Regions from separate parts of the Homo sapiens genome. Here region 2 is linked to region 1. A link means that fine-mapping ties the variant in region 1 to the expression of a gene that starts in the linked region. Tissue or cell type: whole blood. Region 1 holds a variant in brackets; the other region holds the start of a gene. All regions are shown on one strand. Distances are from middle to middle.

Region 1 (8,102 bases):
ACAGCCTGTGCTGGGTACTTTCACATACCTTCTCTTACATACTATGTATGTCATTCTTATTTCACAGATAACAAAACTGAGGCTGAGTTTAAGAAACATGCCTGTGGTCCCCTGCTAGTAAGAAGCTAAGTAGGAACTGGAATCAAATCCATCTAAGGCCCATGCTCTTCTCAATTCACCATGTAGCCACCATGGGACGGCATCTTTTGCTGAAGGGGCCGGCCTGCCACACCCATAATGATCACTGAAACTCTGTGCTGCGGGGCTGGGATGAGCAGCTGTTAAACCAAAGCCTGTAAGTTACCTGATCTGTGAAATGTTCATCTAAGATGAGTCTAAGCAGCGGGTCAGGCCCCAGAGGCACCATGTCACCTGTGAAGGTGGGAAGGAAGGACTTCTAACTCAAGTGAGATGCAGCCACCAGGATGCAGGGCCCAGCCTTCTCCTGTGTGCCTTCCCAGGTCTCTGGAACTGAACCTTGATTCTGTTGCAGACCACCCAAGGGCAAGCAGCTCTGGCCATCTCCCACTTGCCGGAGGTGAGTAGCAAGTAGTGTGAGCCTCACAGACTCTCTTCATTCACTGTCAGTCCATTAACCCGGGGACTCTCACAGTGAAGCCTCTCATTTTCCTCATCCCTTCCCTTGGGTAGCTCCCAGAGCTCCCCATCCTCAGTCCTTGCCAGCTGAGCACATGTCTATGGGACCAGATGTGCCTGACCCTGGCCCTACCCCTATACCTTCCCGCTGGGAGCTTCTAATTAGAAAGACCCCGTTGTCTGGTTACTATTATACACTCACTCTGTCTCTGACGCATGTAGGCTATTGCTCCTCAGGAGGTAATAGCTTTCTCATACTTGTCTATAAAAAATAAGTAATGGAAAGAAAATTCTAGAAGCTTCGGAAAGATCTCCTCTCATAGTTTCCAATCAAGCTAGAGCCATTTCCCCGTAAGAAAAGGCAGCTGTGCTGTGGCTTTCAAAGGCTTGATTTTGAATACAGTGAGAAGCAAAGCTGCCTTAGCCTAGGGTTTCTTCTTCCTGTTCCCCTTTCTTCAGCAGATAGACCCATCTATCTCTCCCCTTCCCACCACAAACGCGGGGAAGTGACGCAAGTGGCCACAGGCACCTCTGCCTTCCAGGGCTGACTCAAAAGACAGCAGCCCTGACCTCACCATTCTGAGGCCTGGCCCTCTGGCTGGTGATGGGAAGCCCTGTCTGGGAGTGCCAGGAGCCCCGTGTGTAGCCAACACTACGAATGTCACAGCCATGGAATGCCAGCACCCAGGTCTGGGATGGCTGCTGCCCACAAAAATATCTGGCAGACAAGATGTGACCCATGGACCAAATGAATCACCTCCTGAATTAGGCCAGCCAGCCACAGCCACGAGGGCTCACGGATCCTTTTTCCACCCAAGAGATGGCGTATAATCCAGACCAGTGGTTCTTAAACTTGTCTGCACAGTGCAATCATCTGGGGGATCTTTAGAAACTTAGCTGCCTGGGCTTCATCCCTGGAGATTCTGATTTAATTGGTCTGGGGTGCAGTCTGGGCATGGGAATTTTAAAAATCTCCTAGTTGATTTTAATTCGCAGCAACATTCGAAAAGAACTGAAATAGACAGACCCCTCACAACAATTCCAGACCTCAAGGGTCTTCATCCAGCTGCTGAATTAACACTTGGTGCCAAGAAACACACAAACACCCCAAAGGTTTACCTAACAGGCACTATCTGCCATGAGAGCGAGATCGATACTATAGCAATCTTCAGAGGATAAGACAAAGACTCTGATTCCTATTCACCTGCCAGATTCTTAAGGATCTGTCCACGGGTACAAAGCGAGAAACCAAGCAGACAGTTTTGCCTCTTGGGGTGGCCCAAGATAGAGACAGAATAGGGAACTCTGTTATGATTTAACAAATATAGACATTGGCATGTGAGGTGTCTCTCCTGGGGGCTCACACATCTCAGTGCATCTGGCATGGAATTCATCTATTCCGATTAAGCCCCTGGCATTGGTGGCAGATGGCTGAGCTGTTCCCAATGCACTTGGCATGTCCAGGGCACTGGTGAAAAACAGGTTTGTGCTCACATGTCCTATGCGGTGGAAAAGGGCAATGTCTTCTTTTAGCTCTGGAGGTGATTGGGGAACAGCCATGTAAAGAGGCTGGGTGCTAGGGGTTCACAGCGACACCCCGACCCTGAGTGATTCTCTAATGCTTCCATTTAAATATTCTTAACAAAATAAGGAGGACCATACCCCTTTCGTCTGGGGCCTAACTCAGGGCAGATTTGCCCTAAGCTGTTTTTCTTTATTTTATCACTAAAGCAACAGCAACAAAACCCTACTTCTGCACTCTAATCAATGACATATGTAATCTTAATTTTGGTGACTGGAGAGTGACCTAATGCCCTAAGGAGAGGCTCTGAGTGAGTCACGTGGCTTCTGGTATTCCCAGGTGGGCCCAGGGCACCCAGGAATGCTGTGGCAATGAGAGGGGGTCCCCAGGATGAGGGTGGGCTGAGGAGGACGTGTGTCCCACCGGCAGTACTGCAGCTATTATATACATCCGTGCCTACTTTTTCTTGACCAAAATCACAAACCTAATTTTTGCTAAAAAATTCACTCTCACTCTTTTTAAATTTGTCAGTCTTTCCTCCTTCTGGCCCACGATTTGAATCATCTCACACCTGTTTGCCCATCAGAAGTCACTTTATTTGTCAAGCTCTTCCTGATCACTCCAGCCCTGAATGATGACGATGATTCACTACAGCTAATATGTACCGTGCACTATTCTACTCACTTAGCATGTATTAGCTCATTTCATCATCACAGCAAATGTGTCACAAAAAATACTATTATGATGCTCATTTTACAGTCAAGGAAAGTGAGCCACAGGAAGGTTAAAGCTAACCTACATCTAAAGGCAACACTATACTATCTGGCACTTAAGTAAGCATCTACTTACACACACACACACACACACACACACACACTTTTTTTTTTTGAGATGTCTCCCTCTGTCACCCAGTCGAGAGTGCACTGGTGCAATCACAACTCACTGCAGCCTCGACCTCCTAGGCTCAAGCAATCCTCCTGCCTCAGCCTCCCAT[GT/T]AGCTGGGACTACAAGCATGTGCCACACTCCTGGCTAATTTTTTTTATTTTTTTGTAGAAATGAGGTGCCTTGCTATGTTGCCCAGGCTGGTCTCAAACTCCTGGCCTCAAGCAATACTCTCACTTCAGCCTCACGAAGTGCCAGGATTACAGGTGTGACCCACCGCGCCTGGCTGCTTACATTAACCTCCAAGTAGACTCATCCATCTCAGGTCTTCTTCCCAACTAGACTAAAGCTCTTTAATGACTTACATCATACTTCAATTTGTTCTCTGTGCCTGGTGCCTCTGAGCATGAGGCAAATAGGAAATACTTGCTCAAGAACCTTCAATGATCCCCTATTGCCTACAGTGGACAAAAAAGGTCTTAATTTCTTCTAGGAATTACAGTGCAGTGAGCCTTGGATTTCCATTTAGACTGAGTTCTGTGAGAGAAGCACCCACGCCTGTCTTGTCCTCTATGGTGTCCCAGATCCCAGTGCCAGCTTGACACATAGTAGGGGTTAAGTACCTGCAGGATGAACACAAGTGTGTGTTGGGCTTCTGACTCCCATGACTAACTACATGATCTTGAGAAAGTCAGATAATCTCTAAGCCTCAGTTTCTTCATCTATACATTTGGGATAAAAATCCCTTATTGTCTCACAGGATTGATGTGAAGGTAAAAATCAAATGAGATAATGGGTACAAAAGTGTTCTGAAAATCACCAAACCCATTCAAAGGCATGTATGGTGACTATCATCCCAGGAAAGCAAAGTTCTACCCCTCTGAGCCAATTTCAGTTTTCATTTTCCTTGAGTCCTTCTTCTGATTGGCCACATGCCCATAGAGTTTGTTAATTCCTTTCTCTGCACCAGTGGTTGGCAAACTTTTTCTGTAAAGGGTCAGACAGTAAATGTTAGGTTTTGCAGGCCACGCAGTCTGTTGCCACTATTCAACTCTACTATTGTGGCACAAAAGCAGCTACTGGATGAGTGTGACTGGGTTCCAGTAAAACTATTTATGGGCCTGGCATGGTGGCTCACACCTACAATCCCAGCACTTTGAGAGGCCAAGGCAGGATGATCGCTTGAGCCCAGGAGTTCGAGACCAGTCTGGGCAACATAGTGAGACCCTGTCTCTACAAAAAAAAAAAAATACAAAAATTAGCTGGGCACAGTGAAGTGCACCTGTAGTGCCAGCTACTCAGGAGGCTGAGGTGGGAGAATGACCTGAGCCCCCAGGAGTTCAAGGCTGCAGTGAGCCGTGATTGTGCCACTGCACTCCAGCCTAGGTGACAGAGCAAGACCCTGTCTCAAAAACAAAACAAACTTTATTTATGGAACCTGGCCATGTGCAGTAGTTTGCTCTATGCTGTTGTTTGTGCAGAGTCTCCTGCCTAGAACACTATTAGCCCTAGTTCCACCTTCTCTATGTAGTTTCCCAATGCAATTTCTCCAGTCTATAGCCATCTCTCCATCCTCTGCTCTCTTAATGTACCAGATCCCTGGCATTTTGATTCCCACATGGAGAAAGGTAATCACAGTTTTGTCCTGGTCTCTCTTTCTCCTGAATCATACTTCCTATGTTTCCTGTGTATTTCCTCACACCACCAGTTAATGGGCCTTTGTAACTTCACTCTCATTTCATGGACACTTTTCACAAGAAGACAAAGGCTTGGGCACTTCCTTGGATTTTGCTCACTTTACTCCATTCTGCAATGAGGAGGCAACAAAGCTGGCTGGGGTAGGGATGGAGGTAGACAGCTAGGCTCACCCCCTGGTTCTGTGACTCGCTCCCAAACACCAGCCCCATGGCCTCAAAGCCTCAGATTCCCATTGCAGCAAAAGTACAAATTACCATCGTCACAGATCTCTGCAGCTGCTGGCTAATGTTAAATCCATACTGCAAGAGCCTATAGAGGTGATTTCAGAGCCTGTGTGGCTACAGCTGGCATCTAATTATATGCTGCCTTTTATTGTTTAATGATTGTTTCACATGTTAATCCCATCTCCCCAGTGAGATGCTCTCTGGATGGAGGCAGACATTAGTTTGGTGCCTAAGCTTTTTGGCACCCCGCTTGGCTGAAACCTGGGCCAAACTTTAAGTAGGTGTCAGATAAATACCTGTTGATTGGGTGGCAGGGGAGGGCAAGACAGCCTGGGGAGTCTCAGGCCAGAGCCCACCCCAGACCCCTAGGTCCAGGAGCACCTCACACTCAGCTGCACCCTGAGGGTCTGATACCAAGAACACACACCAGGCTTTGGACTTTGGCGTTAGCCGTGTGGCTCAGCTCTTGGCAGCTAGCTGATGAGAACAAATGCAAGACCATCAAATGACCTGTGACGTCTGGGGAGCTACTTCCCCTCTCAGGGCCTCAGTTTCCTTATCTGTGAAATCATGAAGTGATACTGGAGAAGCTCTAAGGGCCCCTTCGCAGGACTAAGATTTTACACATAAGATAGGGTGGTGTTTTTTTCTCATCATTGCTTCCTCTTCTATTTCAGAGAATTGGGTGTGGAGATGGGGGCCTCTTGGAGGCTAGCTAGCATGGCTGAATGGCAGCAGGAATAACCAATCTAAAGGAGCACAAAGAACATTTCTAACCGCCACGACTTTACTTTTTCACTGCTCACCACTTTTCTCTATTGTCAGCAAGACTCTATCTTAGCCAAGCCCAAGCCGGTCTACGCATTCTTAACACACACAACTCAAGAAAACAAAACAAAAAATACCCCGGAAGCCATTCACCATGAGCCTTTGCCACATTTCCTCTTTCTCAGCTCTTAGCAAATCTGTCAGCAGCAATTCTTTCACCCCTTGGAAGGAAGCCATCTCCAGGCTTAAGTCAGGGAGGAAAGCCTCAGGCCCCTCCTACAGGAGAATGTCCATCTGCAGCTGCCTTCCACACCCCAAACACCCGGTGCTTCTGTTGTGCTTGCCCTAGATGGGAACGTCTGCAGGCAAGGGGCAGACACCCATCTATCTGGGCTGGATTTGAAATACCCTGCTCAATGTCCAAACCGCATTCAAAGGTGAGGTTAGGAGTTCAAGACCAGCCTGGGCAACATAATGAAACCCTGTCTCTTCTAAAAAAAAAAACAAAAACAAAAACAAAAAAATTATCCGTGCGCCTGTAATCCCAACTACTCGGGAGGCTAAGGCGGAAGAATCGCTTGAACCTGGGAGGCAGAGGTTGCATTGAGCCAAGATTGCGCCACTGCACTCCAGCCTGGATGACAGAGCGAGACTCCATCTCAAAAAAAAAAAAAAAAAAAAAAAAGTCATTGGTCCCTTTGTGATGGTCTCAACCAAATGAGAAAGAGGAATCCCTATGGGGCCTTACTGCAGGGCCCCCTCCCAGGTCTTCGAAGGCCTGTGTTCTGAAATGGACTCCACAGACCCACCACAGCAGTGAAGGGGTTGATTTCCACAGGTCCCTCTATGGCACTGTCCATTGTCCCAAAATTAAAAGGGTTGGGAACTCCTTAACTGTGTTCCCTAATAGGTTATTTGCAGCAGAGCAGGGAAGGGGCTTTATCATGGAGCTTCTGCTCCATGTGGAATTTGAGCAGCTCTGGTAGGGTGTATTAACAGAGCAGAGGGAAAAAAGAGGTGGCGGGTGGAGGTTGAGAATGGAAAGAGACTCAAGTCTCCAAAGACAAAAACGTAGAGCAGATGGTCAATGTCAACAGTCCGCCAGTAGTAACTGAATGAACTGCCTATGGGTGAGGATCGTGAAAGGCACCTTGAGAGATGACGCAGATGGGATGTGACCCTGTCCTTGGGAGTCTGCAGGTGACCTGAGAAGGGAAGACAGAGATGGATGCGCTGTGGCACACCAGAGCAAGTACAGTGTGATCTGGGACAAAAAGCCTCAAGCAGCACAGATCAGGCCACTCCCGCAGACTCCTCAGGTTGCCAGCATGCCCCAGAGTCTGGACACGGGGTCCCCTGCTCTTTGAGGTGACCATCTCAGTCTCTGCACAGCTCAGCTAGAGTGGGTTATACCAGGGAACAGTAGCTCCCTTACAGGGACCTAAGTTCAAGCCCCTGCAGAGCCTCATTATAATATTAAAAACCGACAGTAGTCAGGCACTGCCCTGAAGGGTTCAAGGTCCTGATCTCATTTAATCCCCTAAATAACAAGAAAGATGCTGTTACTCTTCACCATTAGACCATGCTGCCTTGCACGCTGGGCCACAGGTGGCCTGTGCTGGCCATGCCCTTGGTCTTCTGTGAACTTGATCAAGTCCACCTCACTAAGACTCCGATTTCTATTTTGTTTTTTTAAGAGATGGGGCTCTCACTATATTGCCCAGGCTGGTCTCAAACTCCTGGCCTCAAGTGATCCTCCCGCTTTGGCCTCCCAAAATGCTGGGATTACAGGCGTGAGCCACTACGCCTGGCTACTTATATTAACTTCCAAGTAGACCATCCATCTCGGGTCTTCTTCCCAACTAGACTGAAGCTCTTTAATGACTTACATCCACTGCTACTACTTCTCTATGCCTGGTGGCTCTGAACATGAGGCAAATAGGAAATACTTGCTCAATACTTGCTTCAGTGGTTCTTGAGGTCTTAATTTCTCCTAGGAATTACAGTGCAGTAGTGAGCCTTGGATTTCCATTTATACTGAGTTCCGTGAGAGAAGCACCCGTGCCTGTCTTGCCCTCTATGGCGTCCCAGATCCCAGTGCCAGCTTGACACATAGCAGAGATTCAGTAAATACCTGCAGGATGAACATGAGTGTGTATTTGGCTTCTGACTCCTATTACTCACTACATGGTCTTGAGAAAGTCAGAAAATCTATATGCCTCAGTTTCTTCATCTATAAATTTGGGATAAAAATCCTTTATTGCCTCACGGGATTGATGTGAAGGTAAAAAATCAAGCAGTCCGCCCACCTCGGCCTCCAAAAGTGCTGGGATTACAGGCATGAGCCACCACACGGAGACTGATTTCTTTGTGAAATGCAGTTTATACATTTGTTGTGAAGATGAAATGAG
Region 2 (8,102 bases), 70 kb after region 1:
AGACAGTGGGAAGAGTGTTTTCCAAAATGCTTTCCTTACTAAAGTGCCCTTCTGCCAACATGGTTCCCACCCAGTGTCAGTCTCCTGGGCAGACAGATGTCACTCACATACCCACTGCCCTCCTGCTTGTTTCCAAGGGCTGGGATATTTAATAGCACAAACAAGCCATCACTTTCATCACTCACCACATAGTGAGACCCTGCTCTGGGCCTGGCACTCTGCTGGGTGCAAGAAACACAAAGACAAGGAGCCAATGGCTTCGTGGCCCCTATGCCAGGCAAAGAAGGGTCTCCTCAGCCACAGCAGGACATCAGGTAGGAGTGGCATTTCTAGAGGACACCTAATACCCAAATTTTCTGGGATGTCTATGGCAGTCACTTCCCCACTTAGCTCAGCAACCAGGCAGAGTTCGCAAATTGTACTCACTGCTTCGAAAGGTAATCCTAGGAGGTGTCACAAGCCCAGACTAGTTGTTACAGCTGTTAGATGGGAGGGGACAATAACAATCATATCGAATTAAACATTCGTATTGCATTTTGCTAGGCCCTGTTCTGAGTGCCTTATGTATATTAATCCATTTAATTCTCAGATTAACATGATGAAGTAGGTAATATCATTATCCTATTTTTTTTAAACAAAGAAGCAGAACACAGAGATGTCCAGGACTCACGTGGGGACTAAGTGGTAGTCAGGATTCAAACCCAGGGCTCTGGTTCCAGTCTGTACTCTTAACTACTGCATAGTATGATTTTTTTTAAAGTCCTATTTCTGACACTTGCTTTTCAAAATGAAGATAAAACAAAGCAACCTCACCATGGAATCAGACCTTCAACTTAAAGAAAGATGCTCAGCGAGTTTGGCCTGCTGTGTCTCCACCTGCCAGCCCTCATCTGCACATCAGAACATTTCTCAACTTTTGCCATCCAGCCATAGGTTCACAATTAGTTAAATATTAATCATGACAAACAGAGACTCCTTTCTGTAGCCCCTCGATTCCAGTTTTGCTTTCTCTCCAGTGTTCAGACATCGTTAGCATTAAACCAACTCTGTGGGGGACCATGAGCGCCCAGGAAAGTAAAAAGACCTCACCAAGTCACACACAAAGTCAGAGGTACTGCCCGGGGGCCTAGATCTTCCTGCCACTAGAAACGACGTATGACTTAATCAAAGGAGATCGACAATTCTGATGTGACGTAAGGATCAATTCATTTAGTCATGGAGTATCACACACAGGCACACGCAAATACACACAAACGCACCATTATCACCAAACCAAAAAAAAAAAAGAAAATCACAAAACTATGTGCAAAATCTTCAACAAGTGATACAGTCCCCCAAAGTCTAACTACAAACTAGAATGCCAACGAAGCAGATTTCCTGGGATTCCAGCTATGATAAAACCCATTTCAGTGAGGCTCCTGCCTCTCTCCCTGTGTGTAGGGTTGTTGGATGCAGTAAGGGAATCTTGAAAGTGCAAAAGCTGCCAACACATCCAAGGATAAGTTGCATTTGATTCTACTGTAGTCAAAGGCATTTACCAAGGGACAGCAGCCCCTCTACCCACAACATGTACCTCTACAAACCTTTACTCCTTCCTTCTTAATTAGCACCTGAACTGGGGGTTCTGGTGGAGGAAAGAGCAGCACCCACTTGCCCTTCCAATCTTTCCCTTCCACTTGACCCAGGCTTAGTGTCTGAGTTCTATTTCCCTGCAGCCAGCTGCAGCGGGCAGCACATTGAACAGCCTCCGCTGCAGACTGCAGGCAGAAAAAGGGTAGGGTTTTCCTGATGTGGAAATCACTGCTGCTGTCCAACGCTGCAGTTGGATGGGAGACGTGAGGCTGCTGCCATAGGGGAAGGGCCTTTGCTGAAAGATGCAAACCACAATCCATTTCCAGAGATGCTTGTTAGAGGCTGTGCCATTGTCTGTGCTTTGGGCTTCAGATATTTGAAATATCCATGTAAACACATGAACACATGGCTGTGGATATCCTCTGATAAACACGCAAGAGCAAATGCCGGGGTGGGGGTGGAGGGTGGACACCTATTAAAGGCATACACACCCCTAACTGTAGGAGGAGAAAAATAATAAACCCCCAAGGAGACTGAAGATTGGCTCAGAAAATCTATACACTGGGGGCCCAGTGTTTTCTGGCTTTGAGAAGCGCCTGGCTCAGGAGGTGACTGGAGGGGCCTGAGGGCTGTGGAGAGGAAGGGACCCTGTCAGGAGCTGAGTAATGTTAGAGCATGACGACTAGGGCAGGAACCCAGGAGGAGGAAGGGGAGGAGGCAGGGCACAGCCAAACATTGGAGCAGAGTCCAAAGGTTTGAGGGGCCAGAGGTGAAAGGCAGGAGGGGGCACGGGTTCAGGGTGACTTCAGGCTCTCTTCAGCCTCACAGCCTGCCTTTATCCAAAATCTAACAAGGTCTCCTCCCTGTCCCAATACGTCCCCCTGGAGGAGAGGTCTGAGCCTGTACCATGGGCGGACAAACAAGCGTTTTGTCAGTAACCCTAATAAGCAAGGGTCAAACGGTCATCTCAACAGCAGTCTCACAACCCACTCCCAAGAACTCACAACAAAACCATGAGGGTGCACAGGGAGATGACAGAGGCCGCCGAGGCCATCACCCACCCACCCCCCACAACCTGTGTGCGAGTGTGTGTGTGTGTGTGTGTGTGTGTGTGTGTGGAGGGCCAAGGCACGCACCTGTCAGGAGACAGGTATCTGTTAACTACCGCATAACCATACCTAGGTAGTGGGCAGGCACTAAAGGATACCGGGCAGGGAACTAAGGAGCGGACTGTCCCCAGGGGTTGTTATCTCCTTATGTTCGGGGCTCCCCTGGAGCCAAAGAGTGTAATGGCCCCTCTCTCCCTGCCCCAGGGCCCTCCCAGTCCTTCGCCCCCAGACTGCGGTCTCCCCGCACGCCCCTCCCCTGCCTTCACACTTACTAGTGCAGCGCAGCGCCTGCCGCAGCACCTCTCGTCCGCACAGGTCACACCAGCCGGGGCCGCCCGGCAGCACCAACTCGGCGAAGCAGTGCCCCTCGCCTCGCTCCGCCGGGACTCTGGGATCCTGCGGCTGCTCGAAGATGCTCCGCACGTCGCGGGGTCGGGGCGCTCCAGGCCGCCGCCGCAGTCTCTGCTGCAGACCAGGCCGGAGCGGGCGAGCGGGTCGGGAGGCCCGGGGCGGGGGCTCCAGGTTCCCCCGGGCAGCCCTCCGGGCGCTGCGCCCCTCGCGCGCCCCGGGCGCAGTGGAGAGGGGCGCCGGGACACAGAGGCGCGAGGACCGGTCGGGGGGCGGCGGCGGTAGCTCGGGGCCGCTCAGGCTCTGTAGATAGCGCGGCGGCTCGGGGTCCAATAGTAGCGGGTACGGGCGCTGCCCGATGGCCGGGGACGCCATGGCCATGCCCGGCTAGTGGCGGCAGCTTTGGCAGCGGCGGCTTTGGCGACTGCGCTACTCCCGAGCCAGCCCCGAGAGAAGGGGCCGCCCCACACCAGCGCGCCTTTAAAGGAACCGCAGCCTGCTGGGCGGGGCGGGGGCGGGGAGAGTCGGAGTGGCAGGAAGGACGACCCAAGAGAACCGCCGACGGACCGAAGGGGGTAGGGTCCGTGCCAGGCGACGTCTGCGCGAGTGTGGATTTGGGGGCGTCTTCACCTGGAGCAGCTGCAGGATTCCGCAGAGGAGCGCCTCTGTACAGTACAGCTCAGAGGGCGCATTTCTGCGGGGGGCCCTAGGCCTTCAGCCCTGCCTCTTTCCCTTGCCAATCACTTTCCCCAACACCAGGTTCACCCCCGACCCGCACCCTCACGCGCCCCGGGAGGGAGCAGGTCGGAGGGAAAAGCTTGGGAACTGGCTCGATGGGGTCTGAGTAGGGCCCCTCCGTCTAGGCGTCCGCTCGCCACTCTCCCGCTGATGGTGCCGACAGGAGGGCCGTGCTCCTTGGCCCTTCCTCTCTCCGGCTTGTCGCCGCCCGCCGCCCCCTCTAGAGCGGAGCTCGACGCGGGTCCGGAATGCCCCGCGCGCGCTCCCGCAGCCGCGCTTTGTCCCGTGGGTGACCGCCGGATGCCTCCAAGGGCTGGCAGAGCTGTCCGCGTGCGACTTTCGCTCTGGTTGGATTTCCCCTTCCTTCGCAGCCCTGCCGGGTAGGGTATTCCTCTTTCCTGGAAGACTGGTGGGGGGTGGAGGGGAGTTGGGGGGGCTCCATTGAGAGAACGCTCCCTCGCCCCAAGGGTTGGGGGAGCTTTTCTTCCTTAGCCAACCCTCCGTTCCCCAGAGCTGCTCTAGTAATTACTGTGGAGATACCAGTTCCCCTAAATGCCCTAAGTGGAACCTGGTATGGATGGTTCACTCATGGGACCCAAAGAGAGATCTCCTTTCTCCCGGCACTTTCCCCCGTGAAGGCTTGCTTCAAGCCTTCATGGACCCTTGTCTGGTTTAACGCTCTGCGGTCACCATCTTGAAAGTCTTACTTTTTGAACAAAGGGCCAGGCGTTTTCTTTTTGCACTGGTTCCCACAAATTATGTAGTTGTTCCTGACAGGCACCTTTGCCCATGGAAACAGGCCCATCTTATGGATAAGGAGGACTCCTGGATCTCTGAACCTGGGCCTGGGCCCTGGCCCTCTCTAGCCCCAGTATTGTTAACTGTACATTGGGCTGGAGGTGGGGAGACAGGTGGTTGTTAACGTGGCACTCTCCAGCTCCGTCATTATGACTCAGTGATCACAGCTTTCCTCTTAAAACACAGGTTCGGTTTGGTCCGTCTAGCGGTGGTCATTTTTTAGAAGAATAGTCTAAATTCTTCTGGACCTGGTCTCTCCCTTCTCTTCCCAGGCCAGAGATGGGTCTCCCCCTAGTGCTTCGTAGGGGAATCTTCACTTTTGCTTTTTGTTTTTCCCTTGGAGGTAATTTTTAGGTAATTCCTAAGATTTCCAGAGTCCAGTGGCCAGGGAATTCCCAGCCAGCTTTGCTCCATGGCTTCTCCCTCACGGTAATCATAGTCCTCTGCCTCCCAAATCTGTAGCAGAAGAGAGGTTCCTGGGGCTCTGGGGGCTCACCAGAGGCGGGAGCTCACCCTATGAGGTGGTTTCTGAGGAATGACCCATGGGACAGTCAACCCCACAGTGCTACCAAACAGAGGAGCTCCGATGAGGGGTGTAAGCCACAGGCCACCGCCTCTGCCCCACCCCTCCTCTACCTTTCCTCTTCCCTCTCCTAACCTTGCTTTTGCTACATCAGTGGTTTTCAAACCTTGGTATGCATCACAGTCATCTGGAGGGCTTGTTAAGATTATTGGGCTTCATCCCCAAAGTTTCAGAATCTATAGGTCTGGGGCTGGGGTTTGAGATGGCTCATTTTGAGCAAGTTCCCAGGTGTTGATGCTATTGATCCAGGGACCCAACTTGGAAAACCATTGCTCTAGGTCTGAGGTGGTGATTCTGAGAATGGGCTTCTCTGTTCCTTCTCCCCAGGACAAGTGTACTTCAGTGGACCTGACAGATAAAAGCCCAATGAGGGCTATTCCTGAATACTTTCTGCTGAAGGTGTAAAAGGGAAAATACAATTTGCCCTTGTGGTCTCTTATTTTAATCTCCCACTTTTTCTGCAAGCAGTTCTCTTGGGGTTGTTGCAGAAATCTGTATTCCATATAAATATTTGCTGTGTCCACACTCTGTTACCCATCTCCACACACTTGAGACTCATCCCCTTCCTGGAGTGCAGTGGGTGGGTGAGGTCCTGGGCATGGAAACAGCTTGAGCTCTGAGTGACAGCCTGGTGGGGCAAGAAGCAGCAGGGATCTGACAACAAGTGCATCCCTGGAAGATCGGCTTTGAAAAGCCATTTGTGAAATAATTGCTAACAGTCTCCATCTCTGTCCTTCCCTGCAGCCTCAAAGCATGGTTTGGGCAGCCCAGCCCAGATTTCCTGGATAGAGAGACTCATGAGGAGGAGCGTCATCTCTGGCCACGGGAAACTGAGGGCTATCTGAAACCATCAGGCATAAAACTCTTCCCCAGTTGTCTGGGCTGTACAGAAAAATGCTCTAGTTTTTGTTTTCCTCCTGCAGCTCTGATTTGGTGGAGTGGCAGTGGCTGCTCTTAGCATGAATGTGGGAGGAGATTGTGCAGGGCCAGAGCCCTATATTTGGCTTCTGGGGTGGGAAAAGAGATGAAAATGGAGATATTAATCATATAACTCCATGTAACCAATCAAAAAATTTATCATAAAGTTTATCTTAAAGTTCATCTCCTTGAGCCAAGAAATTAGAGTTGGGGCGGGCAGTTGCCCTTCTTAACCTCAATGTGAGGCTCCCTGGCTGGGGCATGTCTCCTCTGATGCCAGTTTTCCCAGCCCAGTCCCCTTCTTCCTTGAAATAGCATTTCCCCACCAACCCACGACACACACATAGACTTCTTTCTTGCTCCCATGCACACACACACACACACACACACACACACACACCCCACATGAACAGCAGAGTATTCCTTCTTCCCCAGGGAAGAAGTGCTAAAGAAACTCTAGTCTCATTATAAGCTCAGGACATTGCTGGGGTAGTGTCAGATGCCTGGACTTTAACATTTTTTTTGATCTGTCTGGTCATCCAGGCTACAAGGGTAAGACCGCAGCATCCGCTGAAACACCTCCACTGGGAGATCTTTCCCCTTGTTAGTAGATCCTCTTGGCTCAGACCCATTGACTTTTTTCTGTTTGTGACTCACTCCCAGCAGAGTGGGTGTGCTGCTTTTATTTTTGACCAAGGGGAAGGATTATGACAGTGAGTTTAGAGTGTGTGGTCAGGGTGTGAGATCACTTCAGAGGTGGTCCCAGAGCGTGCTGGTTTTCCCATTGGGTGAGTTGTTTAACTGCTGCCGCCCAGCCTCCCTCCCCAAGTTCCCTAGTAAGAAGGAAAACGGAAGGACAGAACATGGCCTGACTTCCTGAAGGGGACATTTTTGGTTTTGTTTGACTTTGAGGCGTCTGAAGTCGCCTGAAATCCCCGAAGCTTTCAGGGAACTCCCAGGGATTCTGACAGTTGCACAACTGTCTACATGGAATCACTGTAAGAGTCAGGACAAGTTAGGTTATGCTGTAGTAATAAGCTCCACAGCTGAGTGCCCTGAAATAACAGACTCCTTTCTCGCTCACATTACATGCCTTTTGCAGGTTGGCAGGTGCTCTCTTCTCATCAGACTCACCATGTCTAATATTGCCAGTCACTGTGCCAAAGGGAGATTGAGAGAGCCTGGAGGATCCCACATCAGCATTTAAAAGCTCCAGTCACTTTTGCTCACAGCTTATTGGCCAGAACTAGTCATATGACCCCACTCTACAAACAGGAGCAGATGTAAAATTCTACCTTGTGCTCAGAAGGGGAAAGGGCTGGAAATATTTGGCAATCAGCGCTAATGGCCAGTGCAATCTTCAAGGGCATAGAGCAGTTATTCATTCATTTAATGAGTAATTCTCTGATATCCACTATGTATCAAGCACTGTTCTAGGCACTAAAGGTACAACAGTGAAATGGATATGTTCATGAAGCTTGCATTTAGTGAAAGAGCCAGACAATAAACAGACACAAGAGTAATATGATATCAGGTTGTAAGCACTTTGATGAAAAATCAAGCACATTAAGGGGATGAAGGTGATAGAGGCTACTCTATTAGATTGAGTAGTCAGGAAAGACCTTTCTGAGGAGCAGACATTTAAGCAGATCTGAATGAAGCAAGCCCTTTGTCAATCTGGACAAGAGTGTCCCAGACTAAGAGAACAACAGGCACAACAGCCCCAAAAACTTTTCAAGCTTTATGAACCTGAGTTTGTTCAAAATGCCTATTCTGGGACCTGACCCTCTGATTCAGTATGTCTGGATTTTGGCCGGGATTTTGCAAGAGACTTTGATTCAGATGGCTCACAGACTACACTTTAAAAATGGGGTTACAGCAGTAAATAGTTAAAATGGTGTGACCCCCTCCACAGACATTTGGAAAAAAATGCCCTTATCTTGGTTAGCTATGAAACACAGGTCTCCAGTGCTGCTTCCTTTCCTTCTTGGGCAGCATGTTGCATGCAGAGCTCAGCTTTCCAAAGAAGTGAGTGC

Evidence for each region. PIP is the estimated chance that this variant, and not a neighbour inherited with it, causes the effect.
Region 2: it holds the start of RASSF5, and the variant in region 1 is fine-mapped to the expression of RASSF5 in whole blood (TOPMed, PIP 0.92).

What each region holds. Positions count from the first base shown.
Region 1 is chr1:206,573,128-206,581,229 of GRCh38, reverse strand. The region is part of intron 2 of RASSF5 (Ras association domain family member 5); the gene reads right to left. It also overlaps a transcript of EIF2D not described here. Among named protein-coding and RNA genes, the nearest start is that of EIF2D, 35 kb to the left of the region's middle. RefSeq lists an enhancer at 5,323-5,372. The variant GT/T (reference allele first, on the strand shown) is at 3,114.
Region 2 is chr1:206,502,911-206,511,012 of GRCh38, reverse strand. It overlaps RASSF5 (Ras association domain family member 5), which reads right to left and starts at 3,482. Exons shown (of 6, transcript NM_182663.4): 1 at 2,954-3,482. The coding sequence starts at 3,410. It overlaps LOC124904493 (a long non-coding RNA gene), which reads left to right and starts at 3,606. Exons shown (of 2, transcript XR_007066830.1): 1 at 3,606-4,147; 2 at 5,893-7,594. RefSeq lists silencers at 3,077-3,166, 3,207-3,566, 3,817-3,866 and enhancers at 6,464-6,513, 6,544-6,593.